2 separate regions of the Homo sapiens genome follow, and region 2 is linked to region 1. Evidence: fine-mapped expression QTL. Tissue or cell type: whole blood. Region 1 holds a variant in brackets; the other region holds the start of a gene. All regions are shown on one strand. Distances are from middle to middle.

Region 1 (8,187 bases):
TCTAACTTGTGTTGTTAGTCGTTTTAATTAATGTGTGTTCTTGTCATCCTTCATATAACCTCAGGCTTTAGTTATTCTGGGTACCATACTTGTTTATCCCAGATTATTTGGTTTTATCAATTTGTAGTATATAATTTCATTAGCATTGATGAGCATCTTATATTTACATTTAACTTCCATTAAAAAAATCAAAGGGGGGGTACACATACTCAAAGTAGTTCTCAACTAATTGCATTTATAAATTGCATGCCTGCCTTAAAATTATCATCATTTGAAAACAGGAATTCCTAGATTTCTGTTTCCATGGATTTTGATTATACTTATAGCCTGAAGAAGTAGAGGAGTTTCCTAGATTTCTAAAACACATTTTGTTGCAAGGTCTCATCTTTAGTTTTAGCCTCAAGGTCACTTAAGAGTGACGTGTTGGAGGCCAGGTGCAGTAGCTAACGCCTGTAATCCTAGCAGTTTAGGAGGCTGAACAGTTTGGGATTGCTTGAGTCCAGAAATTCCAGACCAGCCAGGGTCACATGGCAGAACACTGTCTCTGCAAAAAATAAAAAGTTAGCTGGGCATGGTAGTGCATGCCTGTAGTCCCAGATACTTGGGAGGCTGGTGTGAGAGGATCACCTGAGCCTGGGAACGTTGAGGCTGCAGTGGGTTGTGATAGTGCCACTGTATTCTGGCCTGGGCAAGACAGTGAGACCCCGTCTCAAGAAAAAAAAGTGATATGTTGGTAGGAAATATGCTTTTATGTTGTTTTTCTAGTAGTGGTGATGGATTTGTGTACAATCACACATTTTTACCCATTCCCTTTGTCACTCTTGGCATGTCTGCTGAGACAGCTGGCAAGATTAGAGGTAGAAATTATAGCTGTAAAACAGAGTAAAGCTACCAGATTGAACCTACAACCTTGGCATTATTAGTAGTACCTTGTATCAAACATTGAACATATTAGACTAAAAATTACTTATTTGGATTTCATTACTTAAAAACCCTCAAAGATCTAAGTTCTCTTAGATAAGAAACAATATTGGTCTGACATAGTAATTATGTAGCTTTTCAGAAAGCACATATTTGAAGAATGCAAGTTGATAGTGAACCTGAGACTGGGTCCCGTATATATCTGTATTTTTCCTTTTTATGCTATTATCAATAATTTCCTATTAGTGTAGACCAGTAGTTCTCAAAGTTTGGTCTCCAGGCCAGTAGCATCAGTATCTCTTTGGGATTTGTTAAAAATGCAAATTCTTGGGCCCTACCTTGGACCTAACTGAATTAACATTTTAGGGGTGGAGCCCAGCTGTTGGTGTTTTAGCAAGCTTTCCAGGTGATCCCGATGGATGCTGAAGTTTGAGAACCACTGCCTTGGATCTTTTGCTAATTGGTGCCTTTTGTAATGCAATCAACATTAGTTAAAACTAAGTTAAGGTCTATGTTAGAAGTACTGTAAAACTATTACTTGAGAGCATTTTTGTAAAAATGTTGACTAAAGTAGTAAAAGGTAAAAGTCATCTCTTGTCGATTTATTAGATTTGATTTCTAGGAAATTTCCTAAGGCATTTTTCTTTGAGTAACATAAAACAAGAATATGCGTTTTAGGCTTTTTCTTAAAAATAGATTCTTAGTGAGAAAGATTAGTGGAAACAAGCATTTTTAAAAAAAGTACAGTTGACCCTCGAACCACATGGGTGTGAACTGTTCAGATCCACTTTTATGTGGATTTTCTTCTGCTTCTGCCACCCCTGACACAGCAAGACCAACCCCTCCTTTTCCTCCTCAGCATGTGCAACATGATGAGGGTAACAAACTTTATGATGACCCACTTCCACTTAATGGGTAGTAAATGTATTTTCTTTTCTTTGTGATTGTCTTAATAACATTTTTTTTCATTGTTAGAGTTCAGTATATTGGCGTGCAGCCTGAAATATGTTTTGATGGGCTGTTTATGTTATCCGTAAAGCTTCCAGTCAACAGTAGTCTATTAATAGTTAAGTCTGGGGAGTAGTTTGGGGAGTCAAAATTATATGCGGATTTTCAGCTGCGTTGAAGGTCAGCACCCCAACTCCTGTGTTGTTCAAGGGTCAACTGTATTATGAACAAGTAATTCCAGGAGGCCATCACCTGAACCTGTAAAGTTTGGATTATGCCCAGGGGAAGGAGATAACCTGGATACAGATGACCAGAAAGCAGTAAGTTTATTTTGGAAAGCTGCCAAGTTAATGCTATTGTATTCAAAATCATCAGAGCCAAAGATTGCGTGCGATTCAGGATTTGAGTAATGGAAATTCTCCAGATTTTAGTGTGGAATATTTTTCCTTTGTAAGGAAGATGGTTTTGAATATGTAAAGTACTTGCTATCTTTGTGTCTACTGTTTGATTTAGTTAAATCGGTAGATAATAATTAAACACTATTAGAGGTGATAGTCAAGGATAGGGAGTGATTTTAAAAACCTGCTTTCCACAGGAAGTCAAATTAAAAATGGAACTGTATAAAAAGATAAAGTTGGTACTAGATTATTAAAATAAAAAGGACTAGGGAAGATGCCTTCTTGAAAATAATAACTTCAGTTCCCTTTCCTGTAGCTTTATTATGCAAAGCTAATTGTGCCTGTCCCTCCTAATATGTTTCTATATAGGTACCAATGTTGTCATTAATACAAACTGTTAATAAGCAAGCTTCATAATTCTTCCCTTCCCCAAGTACATAGGACCTATGGCCATAATCACTGGTGAATATTTATTCTTTCAAAGACTCTTACTTTGTGTGAATAACTCTTGGGCTCTTTAAATATTTTTAGTCTAGAGTAAATAAGAGCAAATGCTGTGTATTAAATATATTAAAAATTACCTGTAAAATATATTTTAATTAAAAATTTAAACACTGTTATTTGGAAAATTCTTTTTTTTTTTTAAGTTCTACTTTAGGTTTAGCAGCACATAACAAAATACAAACTGACAGTGGCTTAATATAGGAGATGCTAAATTTTTTTCCACATGAAAGCCTGGAGATAGTCAATACAGATCTAATATGGTGGATCTGAAGTATCAAGGACCCAGATTGTCTTACATTCCAGGGTTACCTCATGAACCAAAATTATTGTTGGAACTCCAGCTATTATATCTTCAGGAGGAAGGGAAGAAGAGGAGCATACTCTCTCTCTTTGAAGGATACTTTTTTGGCAGTCACATGTCATTTTTTTTAACTTACATCCAGTTGGCTAAAACATGGATGGTCCCATGGCCATACGTAGGTAAACAAGAGGCTGGGATAGGCAGTCTCATCTGTGAGGCCTTTGTGCTGAGCTAAATTTGGAGGTTCTGTCACTGAGGAATAGGAGAGAATGGGTATTGGAGTCATAGCAGCTTTTCCCCTTGGGTACAGATGAATCATTTAAAAGAAAGACATTTTCCACCTAAAGTCTGCAATATTTCACTTATGCCAGAGACACCCTTAGAGCTGCAAATGCGATGACCAAAATAGAAAACACACTGAAAGAGAGGAGGTAATACATTGCTGCAGACCAAAAAAGAGAATTGTATCTTGGAGCACTCTGAACTCTTGAGTTTAGCTTTCTATTTTTTTGTGTCTTGTCTTGGGTCAGATTTTTATAATCCTAATCTGGAACCATAAAATGAAAGTGGTACATTTAATATTGACAAGATCATTA[A/T]GTGATGGGGAAACAGAAATCAAAGGAAGAATGGATTGCCGTGCTATATTGTATTTCACTTGAAGAGCTCAAGGAATTGCACGGTAAAGTAGTAGTGGTAATGAAGTTGATGGCCTACTCTGCTTACTTCCAATTTGACATCCATTTCCAAGCCATGTATCCATGTATTTTATCCTCTTCTAGAATGTTGCATCGGGTTCTACTTAGGTATTTTCTCTCATTTCAGTTGTAAGGATGTGGTTTCCATAAGGGAAATAAATAAAGCTGACCATTTTAATTTATGAATGCTTTTGCCAATATTCAGTTTGTTTTTATATCTTTGACCTAAACATTTTATTAAAAATGCGGAGACATCTGTGTCTTATATATTCTTTTGTCACCTAACTTAAATATTAATATTTTAAGCATATAATTTCAAACATAAGGAGTTTATAATTTGGATGTGAATAGAAGAGCATATGTATATAAGTCTCCTTTGGATTGATAAAACATTTATTCATCAGGCTCTGAGGATTTAATAGACATTAAGTCAGAAACATATCCATTTCTCTTCTCGGCAGAATTGCTTTTACTGATAGCAGCAAATGAGCAGTTGCTGAGGTAGGGAGGAGGCCTTGTCTGGAGGTTATGCATTAGCAAAAGGGAAAATAACTGGCTGATGATGGGCTGGTGATTACAAGCCTTAATATTCTTGAGCGAGCCAAGAAGCCCAGCAAAGTTCAAAAATAAAATTTTGTTCTCTGTTCTCTGTTACCAATATTAGATAACAACATTCTTTTATCATAACCAAAGGCATTGCCTCAAAATAGCAACACTGAAAACAAGCCTTGCTTTCCTAGTGGTAGACAGTTATAGTAATAATAATGTTAATATTAAACACAACAATAATATAAATAGCACAACATTTATTGCATGCTTACTATGCTGGGCATGGTGCTACATTTCTTCTATGCATTTTCTCATATAATCCTCATAACTGTATAAAGTAGAGAGTGTTAATGTTTCCATTTTACAGAGAAGAAAACGGAAGATTAGAGAGGGTACCTTGACATGTGAATTCAAGTCCATTTGACTTCAGGGTCTGTGTGCTCTAAAGAACACACATGCCTGAAGATCTAGTGCCCCAGGTGCAGACCAAAGCTTTGTAGTTAGAGGGCAGTCCCAGGGCAGGTTGATTGGGTGGTAGTGATAAGGACATGAGTTTCCTTGACCTGCTATTTTGCTGGAGAAGGATAAAGATACAGTATACATTCACCAAGTGAGAGTTTGTATTTGGAGAGAATTTTACCTTTGAATTTTGTTTGCCTTCTGACAGAAAATAGGATGTTTTTTTTTCTTTGCCTGAGATTAAGAGGATAGTATCATTTCATTCATTACCTGATGATTAAGAGGGTAGTATCGGTAGTATCATTTCATTCAAAAGAACAGTTTTACATTTTGAAGATCATGTAAAGTATGAAGCAAGTAATTGCCAAAGCCTCCTCCCCACCACTCCCTGCCCTGCAGGCTTTGCACAATGATTTAGAATATTTTAGGGTTCCTTAAATTTCTGAATTCCCCTAAGTTCCTTTGTGTTTATTTACAGTTAATGTGTTAAGAGCCATTGACATTTGAAGATCATCAGAAGTGAAGATAAAACATCTCAAAAATTATAATGTAAGTGAATGGGAAAATGCAGATATAAAAATGGACAAAAGTTAATATTGCCAACAGTATTTCTGGATTATATATTATCCCAAATGAAATTTGCACTTATGAGTAACAAGTAGTTTCAAACTTCAGTTCCATTTCCAAGTCCCTGTCCTTAAAATTCTGTGTTCTCTTCTACTTGGGGAAAGCAGTCACTAAGTTTTAGTCATCCAGTTATTTTCCATTAGAATTCTTTTGGCATCCATGTTCTGTTTTCTTCCTTTTCCTCCTTAGCAATTTGCAGTTTGACTTGAGAAGAGGATGACAAGAATTCATGTTATATGCAAAATGTTATAGATACTAAGGTCTTTGCTTTCCAGCTATTGATGTGTGTTGTGTATGTTATTCAAGTGTAATTTTACTACTGTTTTGTATGTTTCTTAGCCAAAAATATGACCAGTTAGTTAGCCGCCTTCCTTCCCCCTCTTTCTCTATTCTTTCTTTTTTTCCCCTCCTCTTTCCCTTCCTTTCTTTCTGCAAATAATTGTTTAACATCTACTGTGCCTTACACACTGTGCTAGATTCTGAATTCCTAAAAGCTTGGTGCTGAAATGAATTATATCATCTTTTCACACTCTTAGAGGGATTAGAGATCAACCAATTAGTGTTTTTCAACTGTGGCTGAGGACCACCTATGTATTTCAGTCAACTGTGAACTTGGTGAACATTTAACTTCCTAGGTTTCAGCGTGGACATTCTGAATCATTGAGGTGACGTTAGGAATCGGCATTTAACAGTTGAAGAACCACCCATCCAAATGCTGTTGGATGCTAGTCTAGTTCCAAAAGTTTTCAGATGTGGAAATAGATCTAGAGAACTCTAATAATTTACCCCAAAGCACAATAAATGTTAGAGGGCCAGGAAAGGTTGTGGTTTTCCTCTGAGGTCATAGAGCTATTTAGTGTCAGAGATGATCTCCTAATTCCCAGTTCTAGACTTTACCATGTAGCATCATGATTTTTTTGCAGGGCCATATAACTTCACTGTATTTCCTGTCTATAGAACCCTCTGCTTATAGGATGTATAAGATTATAACCAATCCATCACTGTTCCTGAAAAAAATAAGAGGACATATGGGTTATGTAAATGAAAAACATACTGTTTCTTCATTTTTAGTCAGATATGTGACTCATTCTGGTTTTGAAATCATTGGATAGACTTGGTGAAGGAAAGAAAAAACTTTTTTTTGTATCCATGATATTATTTCTACCTGGATTTAAGTTTCATGCTTACGAAAATGAGGATCTGATTTCATTTTTTGAGTGAAATAGTAGGTACAAATTTTATAGTGTTTTGCAAATAGTAGGTGCTTGATAAGCTATACTATGAACAGTTTACTGTTAAAACTTTTCTTCATTTGTATTCTGTGAAGTACGCTAGTTAGGAGTGATTTTATTTGCTTCATACAGAATCTGATGCTTTATATACCAAGCCAGAAACTTTAAATAATTGAAATAATTTTATTGTATTTATAATACTATATTTTATAGTTGATATTCACAAGATCTCTGAGGGACTGAAATTTATAAAGTATTTTTGAACTATAAGAGTTTGAATTCGTTTTAGTATTGTGTATATTTTATATTGTATTATGTATGGTATATTGATAGTTACTGATTTGTAACTTTATATGAGTAAATCTCGTTATCTTAATTTTGGAAATACTCTGTAATTCTCAAATTACTAGAGAGTTTAATGATGCAATGCCTTTTTTTAATATTTCAAGACATTTTTATTCTATGATTTTTAAAAAACGTCATTTTAAAATAGCCTATTGATTTCTAAAAAATTATTATATTTTTCAATTATAAATTTTCTTTTCATTAAAAACTTTTTTGTTCTTTTCATAACCATGGAAACAAGATTGTACTTATAAGAGCTCTAGAAAGGAACCTTATCTATTATGTGGTTTTCTAGTTTATGATTTCTAACAACTAATCTGGTAAATAGGGAAGAGTATTCAAAATTAGGGAGAGATATCCTTGGCAGGCATGGATCACTGAGTACTGTCAGTATTTTGATTTTTAGCTTAACCTTTCTGGACTACAAAGAGAAAGATGTTGAATGCTCTACCTTTCCTACTGAGAGTTTTAACTTAGTAACTGAAAAAAAAAAAAAAAACCCACCTGTGTTAACTTCATTTATATGACTTTGAAGTTTGTGCAGAAAAGTTGTATCTCATTACATTGAAAGGGTAGTGAAAGATTAATTGTATAATAAACAGTTTTGCTTGTCTTGGAAAAACAAAATATATCTATCTGGATAGCAAAAATAATGGATATATGACTTTCTAATTTGAATAATGAATTCAGGTTTGCAAGGTGGAGTGAGAAAATTACATGACAGATCATTTTTCAAGACATAAATTTCCCTGTTTTCTATACTTGTCCAAGTAAGTGTTTGTTGAGCAAGTGTTTAGGGAATAGATCACCTTCTCTCTTTTAGTGTTTTTGCCTGTATACTTTAGTTTGGGATGGAAGGGTTAATTTCAGAGCTCTAATAATCTGACCAGTTTTCAGTTTAGTTTGATTCTTCTCTCAGTTAAGTGATATTTAAATAACTTTTTCCCTCTTGGCTACTTATGAATCTGTGTGTTTTCATTTGAGCTGTCATCTGAATTTGAATCGGAGGTTTTTGAAGAGATTCTGAGAAGCTCCTTAAACGGGGTGCTGAGGCTGTGAGATTGGTGCTGGAACTCAAGGTCCTTCCTGCCCTCCAGTCCTCACCCCTGTCTCCCAGGGACACATTCATTTTCCGCAGAATACTTTGGCTTTCACCTCTTTATTTATTTAAATTTCCCAATAAGTTCTTTGAAGAAACAATACTCTGG
Region 2 (8,187 bases), 130 kb after region 1:
TCAGAGGGACAAATCAAGAGATTAGGTCATTAATCACCAAGGTTATTGTGAAAATATTACAAGGCTGACATGAAAGACATTCTTGTGTATTTCAACACAATGCTGCCCATACCTCCATATGGAATTAATTTCATTATGCCCAATCATAGTTGCTTTCCTGCCTTTTCCACCAGTCGAAGTTTATCAATTCCAGAGCAATCACTCAATAAACGTTACCTAGAACCTAACTGAAACCTATCGCCCTACTTCCATGCTGTTCACATTTGAGATTTACATGGTCACTGCTTCCCAAAGACGGTTATTTATGAATCTACTTGTTAAAAATCTTTGCCTGTAAAGCATCTCAATGTACTTATAACTAGCTCCGTATGAGTTTATCAATGTCGAAAACAGTTGAATATAACAGTTGTTAATCTTCATAACCGTGAAATCTGAATACGAGTTGTGTTCTCAGTTCATGGTATAGTTTTAACAAGTTTTTTTTTTTTTAAATGTTGCCTACTGTTAAGATCAGCTGTTTGATAAGCTAAGTGCTTTTCCAACGCTGTTGGAAATGGCAGCCTTATTTCTGATGGGACATCTAAGCAGGACGTTTTCTTACGCACCAAGAAACCAACTAAATTTAGTCATTTTTGTTTTGAGAAACAGTAACTTCCAAAATAGACATTTTGATGTAGCAGATTGAGTTATGGTTGTTATACTTTGATTTGTGGAGGTTCCTAGATATTCTTAGTGTACCCTTGATATTTAGAATCCTATTAAAGCTGAGCTTAGCACAAAAAAAATATGCTTTCCTAATGAACAGTCTTTGGTATTTCTGTCAAGGGTACCGTATAAGTATTAACAGCTGACTATATCCCAGTGCCAATGCTCACCTAGGTGTCCTTGGCATAGTGCAGCTCAATTAAACGTTTATTTAATATTTTATTTTATGGAGACAGGGTCGCTCTGTCGCCCAGGCTGGAGAGCAGTGGCACTATCATACCTCACTTCAGCCTCAGTGATCCTCCCGCCTCAGCCTCACTAGTAGCTGGTATTACAGGCATGAGCCACGCACCCAGACTCAATTCAACATTTGTAAGAGTATTCCTTGTTCGGTCTCCAAGTGCTTAACTTTTGAGAGCCGTGAAAAGCCCTCTTCTCCCAAGTTTAATCACATCTCCTATAAAATCTCATCCATCTGCTGACACTTCCAATAGTTTTTTACTTTTTTCTTTTACTGACCTAATCCTGAATAACCTTAAATTGCTGCTTTCCTTACTTCTCCTTAACTTCCCCAGACCTCTCTGCAAACTTCTAATTCCCATTCGGCTGAAACACTGTAATACTTCTAGTCCCATTATTACAAATTCTAACAAGTCTCCAAAAGCTGAAACTGACTTCTCCAAGGTGACCAGGCTTTCTTAGCGTTTCCAACTCTTTCCCCCTAGATCCTAGAAAATAACTTTACCCTGATACTCTTCTAGTTCCTTCCCTCACCATCCTTCTTTTTTCACGTTTTTACCTACGTTTCCAATTCACCTCATCCAGCTCTACCTCCGTATTACTTCTTCTCATTCCGAACTATCTCAAGTTTCCTAAAAGCACCTACTGTTCTAGCACATACTCCAAAATTCCCGCACTGCCTTTTTCTCCTTTCTCTACTCTTGGGACAAGCAATCACAATTCCTTCGACACGCAACTAGCTCCATCTTCCCTTCTAGGAAACCTTCTCTAGCCTACCCAAGCACTGTTAATCACTCCCCTCTAGATTATTCTACTACGGTAGCACTTCCTAAACTATACTGCGCAGTAATCACTAATTACGTGTAGTTTCTCTTCAGTGTTTTTCTCCTTCAAAGCAGGGTTTCTATTCTGTTCATTTGGACCCTAACAGTATACCAGGCATCGAACATTTGCTAACTGGAGAAATAAGAGCTCCAACATTTACTTCCTATCAAAGCTTTCCAATGCCGCGGTTTTCAAAAACCTAAGCATTCGACACTCCAATTTGAGAAATACCAGTGAATACCAGTAACTAAACTGGATGGTGACATTTGATGAGGCGAAAACAATATTTAAAATCAATTCCCCCTGTCGCCTCTCCAAAAGGGCATTTCCACATTGAAGTTCCAGTAATTCTAGGTGACAGGAAGCGCGCGTTCTGGCTACGAGCATCACACAACGAAGTTAATGTGGATGGGAGTGGGAGGCACTGCAGGGATAGGAAACAGCATAAGCAACGACTAGTAAGCGCTCGAGAGACGGCGGACTACTATTCTGCAACGTCTCTTAAACACACTGGCGCGCCTCACCTGATCTGGCGAGTTTCCTAGAGGGGCCGCTGAACCCACGTGACCAAAAGAGCTACATTTTTGCAGGCCAGGGAGTGGGCAGTTATCCCAGCCGGCCCTTGGGAATGTTAGGCAACCGGGGTTGGTTGCTACGCCAAAAGGTGAATAAGGGCTGGGGAACAGGGGCGGCCAGCCCAGTTTCACTGGGAGCCAGAGGGTGCAGCTTCGACACAGCCACAGTGAATGGAAGCTTGGGGAGCGCGGGGCAATCTAGGCATTCCCGCCGACCTCCAGAATTGCGTCAGAAGCTGGACTGACAGCGCCCTGAAACGTGAGGAAACTCAAAGAGGCGCTTAGGGCCGACGTGGGGCCCACTCGCGCCAACTGCTTCTTACCGACAAGTGAGAACCAGAAGCCGCAGAGACAGACGCCGCCGCCATCTTTCAGCCTGCCCAGGGGGTCTCCGCACTTCGGGGGCGGTCTAGGTTCTCGTGCTCTTCTCCAAGACTCGGGAGCCGCCCACCAGCGGGGACCCTAGGCTGAACCCCTGATGGAAAAGGGCAAGGGTGCTGGTGCTGGGCTTGGAAACCCCTGCAACACACCCCCTCAGGGCCGCCTACGCTCACAGCTTACACAGAAAGGGCAACACGTCCTAACGGACGTCTTTCCTAGCCAATCAAAACAGCAGACGTCTTTCTGTAGTAGGAGAGAATCCGCCTCTTCCCTGGTGACGTCACAAGGTAGCGCGTAACGGGGCCCGCTGGGGCAGACAACGCCGGGGTTACAGGCCGGCTCTGCGGGGATTCTACGGAGGGTCGGGCCTCCTCCAGTAAGAAGCGTGGGCGAGTAGTGGTGTCGCCAGTGGCAACTGAAGGGAGTAATGGAGATAAAACAAAAGCGAAGGCGAAGTTAAAGCACTCCACGAGTTCCCTCGGATTAAACGCCGGAGAGAGCGTGAATTTGCCTCGGGGACGCCTCTCCAGGTGAAGTATTTACCTTTTGGCCAATAACAAATAGGATTAGGAGGGACTTAACGATTTAGTCCAATAGAAAGCAAGGGAAAAAAAGTTGCGGCAGAGAACGAGCCTTTCGCGAACATTTGCTCAATTGGATTGGGGCGCTCTCAGCCAAACCTGGGACTGGCTGTTAGAAATAGCCGCGACCGCAGACCTTTGGGCGGGGCAGGTTCAAAGCGGATTTCGCGCGCTGAGAGCTCCGGGATGTCATTGGCCGGCGACATCCTCCCTTTGTGGGCGCTTCCTGCGTCGCGGAAGTTGGGAGTTGGGAGGAGCCATCGAATGACGCGATAGCCTTCGCAGCCAATCAGGGATGGGAAAGGGAGGCCGAGAAGGAAGCGGATCCACGGCCGCACAGCTAAACAGCAACCCCCTACCCGCTTCGTCTCCCTCCGCCGCTATCGGGGCCTAAGCGGGAGCGGCTGGCACGGCGTCACTGGGTGGGCTGGGGCGGAAGTGGAGGCGGAGGGAGACGGTGGCGTCGTCCGCGGGGCCCTGGGCTCTCGCGGCGAGGCCCTGGTGGGCGCGAGGCAGGGGGAGGGGGAGGAGGAGGAGCCCGCGGCCCGGGCGGCGGCGGCTCTCGGGTTCTCCGTAGGGCCCCGCCTCGGAGCGGGCGGCGGCGGAGGAGGAGACTGAGGAGCAGGATGGCGGCCTCGGCCCTGTACGCCTGCACCAAGTGTACCCAGCGTTATCCTTTCGAGGAGCTCTCCCAGGGCCAGCAGCTCTGCAAGGTCCGTGGGCTCCGGGAGGCGGGCGGGATGGGTGTCCTCGGCCGTAGCCGGAGGGGGCCGGGTAGCCGCTGCACTGCAGCCCCTCTTCGCCGGCGCCTCAGGGGTTTGGGAGTCTGGAGCCCTCGCCTCCCCACTCGGGGACCCCTTTTTCTGGGGGCTTGAACATTAGCTGGGAACGGACCCTGAAAGGGAGGCAGAATCGTGCCCTTTTCCAGGCGGCCCAGGAGGGTGCCGGGCCCCGTCAGCGTCTGGGGGTCTCAGGAGTGGGGTTGAGTGAGGCAGCCACCTGTCTATGCCGCAGAGACCCAGGGGTGGAGATGTTTTCATCTCGGTTTTCTGCCTGGTCTGTCCTCTTCTTCCACCAGGAGGCAGGGGACGGTTTTTGCACTTTCTTGCTAGGAACCCGAAGCCGCAAAGCTGATGGCATCCTTCTTCCCTGTCCAGGAAAGCGAAGCGACTGGTTTGGGAACAGAATGCTCTGATTTGGAGCTCCTCCCATCCCATTAAAGCCTGGATGCTGTCTGTGAGCAACGGTGCAAAATAATAAGTAGTTTCACATTTAACCAATCCTTGAAATAGGCCCTGACAGCTTTCTTAATTTGTCTGTAATATACCCCCACGTCTACTAAAGACAAAGACACCTGTGCCTTCCCTAAGGAATTATATTGTGATTGGCCACTTATATGATAAAGCATCCAGTTCTTTACGTTGGGGCCAGGTTTTATAAATGTTTTAGACTTTCACTAGGTTGGGTAAACAGTTTTCTACCAGAAAAGTGAGATTTGGGACTTTCAGAAAGATACTGACTAATGTATTGTCTTATTACAGGAATGTCGGATTGCACATCCTATTGTAAAATGTACTTACTGCAGATCAGAATTTCAACAAGAGAGGTTTGTATACTGAATAGTTTTTGACTGTTAAAGACAAGTGTTGTCTTTATGGAATACTTGGGGGTTGTAATCCCATGTTTTTATGAAAGTATTTTTAAAAAATGGTTTAGCCCCAGAAATTTTAAGTTGTAAACCTTTTATACATGGTGGGAGAGAGAATGTTGCGAAAAAAACCAGTGGTGGTTAATTTACAGTTAGACTTTATATGAGAGAAGGAATAATACTACATGGAAAATGTACAGCCTTGCTAATGAAAATGCAAATGTAAACAGTTATGTTAAACTAAAAAAAAATGGTAAAGCCTTAATGGATCTGAGGAAAGGTCTGTAGTGTTACCAACTGCCTTCCAAGGTGAAAATCTAATAATTTGTTACATAGAAGAGGAGTAGTACGTAACATTTTTAACAGTTCCACTCTGAGAGTATATACAGAAAGTAGCCTCAGAAAAGAACAAATAATTTCTTCATAAATAGGTGTGGGCATTATAATGTTGGACAGTAGCCAAGTGGAAGGTTAGGTAGGCACTGGTATTGTAATGCTGTGCAGTAATAGTGTCAAGTGTGAAGATTTTGGAGCTATATAGGAAACATTAAGATGTTTTGTTTACAAAAAGTAATATGCAATAAAAATGTATAAAAACATTTGTCATAAGTTAATTTGGGTAAAACAACTCTGAAAATATCCTTGTATATTTGAAAAAAATCCGTGGTCCTTATTAAAGTTTTAAGTACAACAAATCTTTGACTCATTTTATTTTGACATTGTGCTAATTACTTTAGAAAGCTACATAAACATGATCTATATACAATTTATTTTTCAGCAAAACTAACACAATTTGTAAGAAGTGTGCTCAAAATGTGAAGCAATTTGGGACGGTAAGTATGTCTTATGTTTTCATGTCATTGTTACCAGTTAATATTTTTCATAAAGCTGGACCTTTTAAAAAAATATGTACTGCTGGCTGGGCACAGTGGCTCACGCCTGTAATCCCAGCACTTTGGGAGGCCGAGGAGGGCGGATCACAAGGTCAGGAGATGGAGACCATCCTGGCTAACACGGTGAAACCCCATGTCTACTAAAAATACAACAAAAAAAAAATGAGCCGGGTATGGTGGTGGGCGCCTGTAGTCCCAGCTACTCCAGAGGCTGAGGCAGGAGAATGGCGTGAACTCAGGAGGCGGAGTTTGCAGTGAGCTGAGATCCTGCCACTGCACTCCAGCCTGGGGGACAGAGCGAGACTGCGTCTCGAAAAAAAAAAACTACTGCTATGCTCTTAGATATTTCAACATACCATATTTTATGAAAGACATTTTCTATAGATACTTTGATGGAAAGGTGATAACATTTAAAAACAGTCAAATTATATACCTGTTTTACATGTATTGAATCCAGTGTGAAATTTGTGAAGCTGTTCTTTAGAGATTCAAATATAGCAAATTCTTGGTTATGGAGAACTTATCCATAAAGTTTGCATCATCAGACTTTAGCCCACTTCAGAACAGCCTCCTCAGAACTATTTTTATAAAACAGCGCAATTAAAGATATTTATTCACAGAAGTCATGACCCAATCCTAGTACAAATTGTCTTATATGTATACTACAATCATTATAGGTATATTATACCAATATTATTTATTATTGGTCAAAAATGCTAACTTTAACGCTCTAAACTGCCCTGAATCATCTTTTGAATATCAAAGAAAATCAAGGTATGTTTTTATAGTTTATGTTGAATATGCTTGTTCTCATTTTTTCAAAGTTGAAAACTCACAGTATATATTCCTTATATGATTTGTACCTATATGTGATGAAAAGTTAACATTTTCTAAATAAATGATATGGTCATTAAGGTAACTAGGATATTAGTAGAAGGACGTTTCCTCAAATTCTTGATTCATGAGACTTCTCTACATATGTACCTTTATTTTCGTTCTTTAAAACCTTTTTTATGTGTAGTTTTTGTATTATCTAACAGACTATGCAAATCACAAATCTATTTCTCACGATCTTAGAGTAATAGTTACATGACTAGAAATAAATACTAGTTGAATGCATAGAAATATGGTATAAAAGTTATTGCATGTGACAGGGCAACAAACTTGACAGAAAACAAATTTTTTACCTGAGTTTTCTTAATTCCAGAAATATGTCTACAACACTGGGTATATGCTATGCCGCAAATATTTAATGTTTTTAAAAGTCTCAAAATGTGTATGTTTTTCAGCCCAAGCCTTGTCAGTACTGTAACATAATTGCAGCATTTATTGGTACCAAGTGTCAGCGTTGCACAAATTCAGAAAAAAAGTATGGACCACCTCAGACCTGTGAACAGTGCAAACAGCAATGTGCTTTTGATCGGAAGGAGGAAGGAAGAAGAAAGGTATGCTTTATTTATGTTATGACATCTTCTGGAAATTAAATAAAATGCCAAACAAGTTGGAAATTATAATTAATACACTACTGAGACTGGATCTATTCTTTAGGTCCATGAAAGCAAGTAGTTAGATGAAAGTGCAGGAATAGTGAGTTTTCTCTTTGTTTGCATGATACATAGATTCATGTACTATACTTTAAAAAATATTCTATGGTGGCTATTCTGTACTAGTTGGCTATCCCACATTTGGTTCAGGAGATTTAACTAATTGCTTAAATATCTCCTTTTACTTTACCCTTTTGCTAGTTACTTGACATCACTGGTGTGAAAAAAATACCTGATGGCACATTGGCACATAAAATTCAGTTACTCTTGTGCCTTTTGATAAAGGCTCATATTTGAAACTGTTGTTTGTTTTTGTCTACCTGCAGTGACTTAATGTAATAAGTATTTGTGTTCATGTGATAATTCCTTTGCCGATCAGCATTCACACAGGCCTCCTGTTGCCTATCAATTTTAGTTGATTTGGAGAATGACTACCTCTTTGAGGGGCTTCCTCAGGTCTCCCCACAGCAATGTACATATCCCATTATAAGACATGTCCCTCCAGCATGTCTGGTACATAAACATCATGGAATACTATGGATGGAATACATGTGAACAAACAGAAGATAAAAACTTGGTTTTATTTTTAGAGGTTTAGTCAGTACTTCTGGAAAGTCTCTTCTTTGACACAGGTACGATTGATTCTCATTATTTGTGGTAGTTCTTTAAAGTTCCCACAAAACAGTGAATACGGTAGTACCCACCTTATCCATGGGAGATACCTTCTAAGACCAGTGGATGCCTGAAACTGGGGATAGTAACGAACCTTACTGTGTTTTCTCCTGTACATACGTG

What was found. PIP is the estimated chance that this variant, and not a neighbour inherited with it, causes the effect.
Region 2: it holds the start of FAM76B, and the variant in region 1 is fine-mapped to the expression of FAM76B in whole blood (INTERVAL, PIP above 0.99).

Annotation. Positions count from the first base shown.
Region 1 is chr11:95,911,379-95,919,565 of GRCh38, reverse strand. All of the region lies in intron 1 of MTMR2 (myotubularin related protein 2), which reads left to right. Among named protein-coding and RNA genes, the nearest start is that of MTMR2, 8.6 kb to the left of the region's middle. The variant A/T (reference allele first, on the strand shown) is at 3,669.
Region 2 is chr11:95,785,225-95,793,411 of GRCh38, reverse strand. It overlaps FAM76B (family with sequence similarity 76 member B), which reads left to right and starts at 3,630. Exons shown (of 10, transcript NM_144664.5): 1 at 3,630-4,020; 2 at 4,849-4,913; 3 at 5,734-5,788; 4 at 7,138-7,293. The coding sequence starts at 3,934. CEP57 (centrosomal protein 57) reads right to left here and starts at 2,914. Exons shown (of 11, transcript NM_014679.5): 1 at 2,669-2,914. The coding sequence starts at 2,713. RefSeq lists enhancers at 2,006-2,669, 2,633-3,102 and a silencer at 3,603-4,022.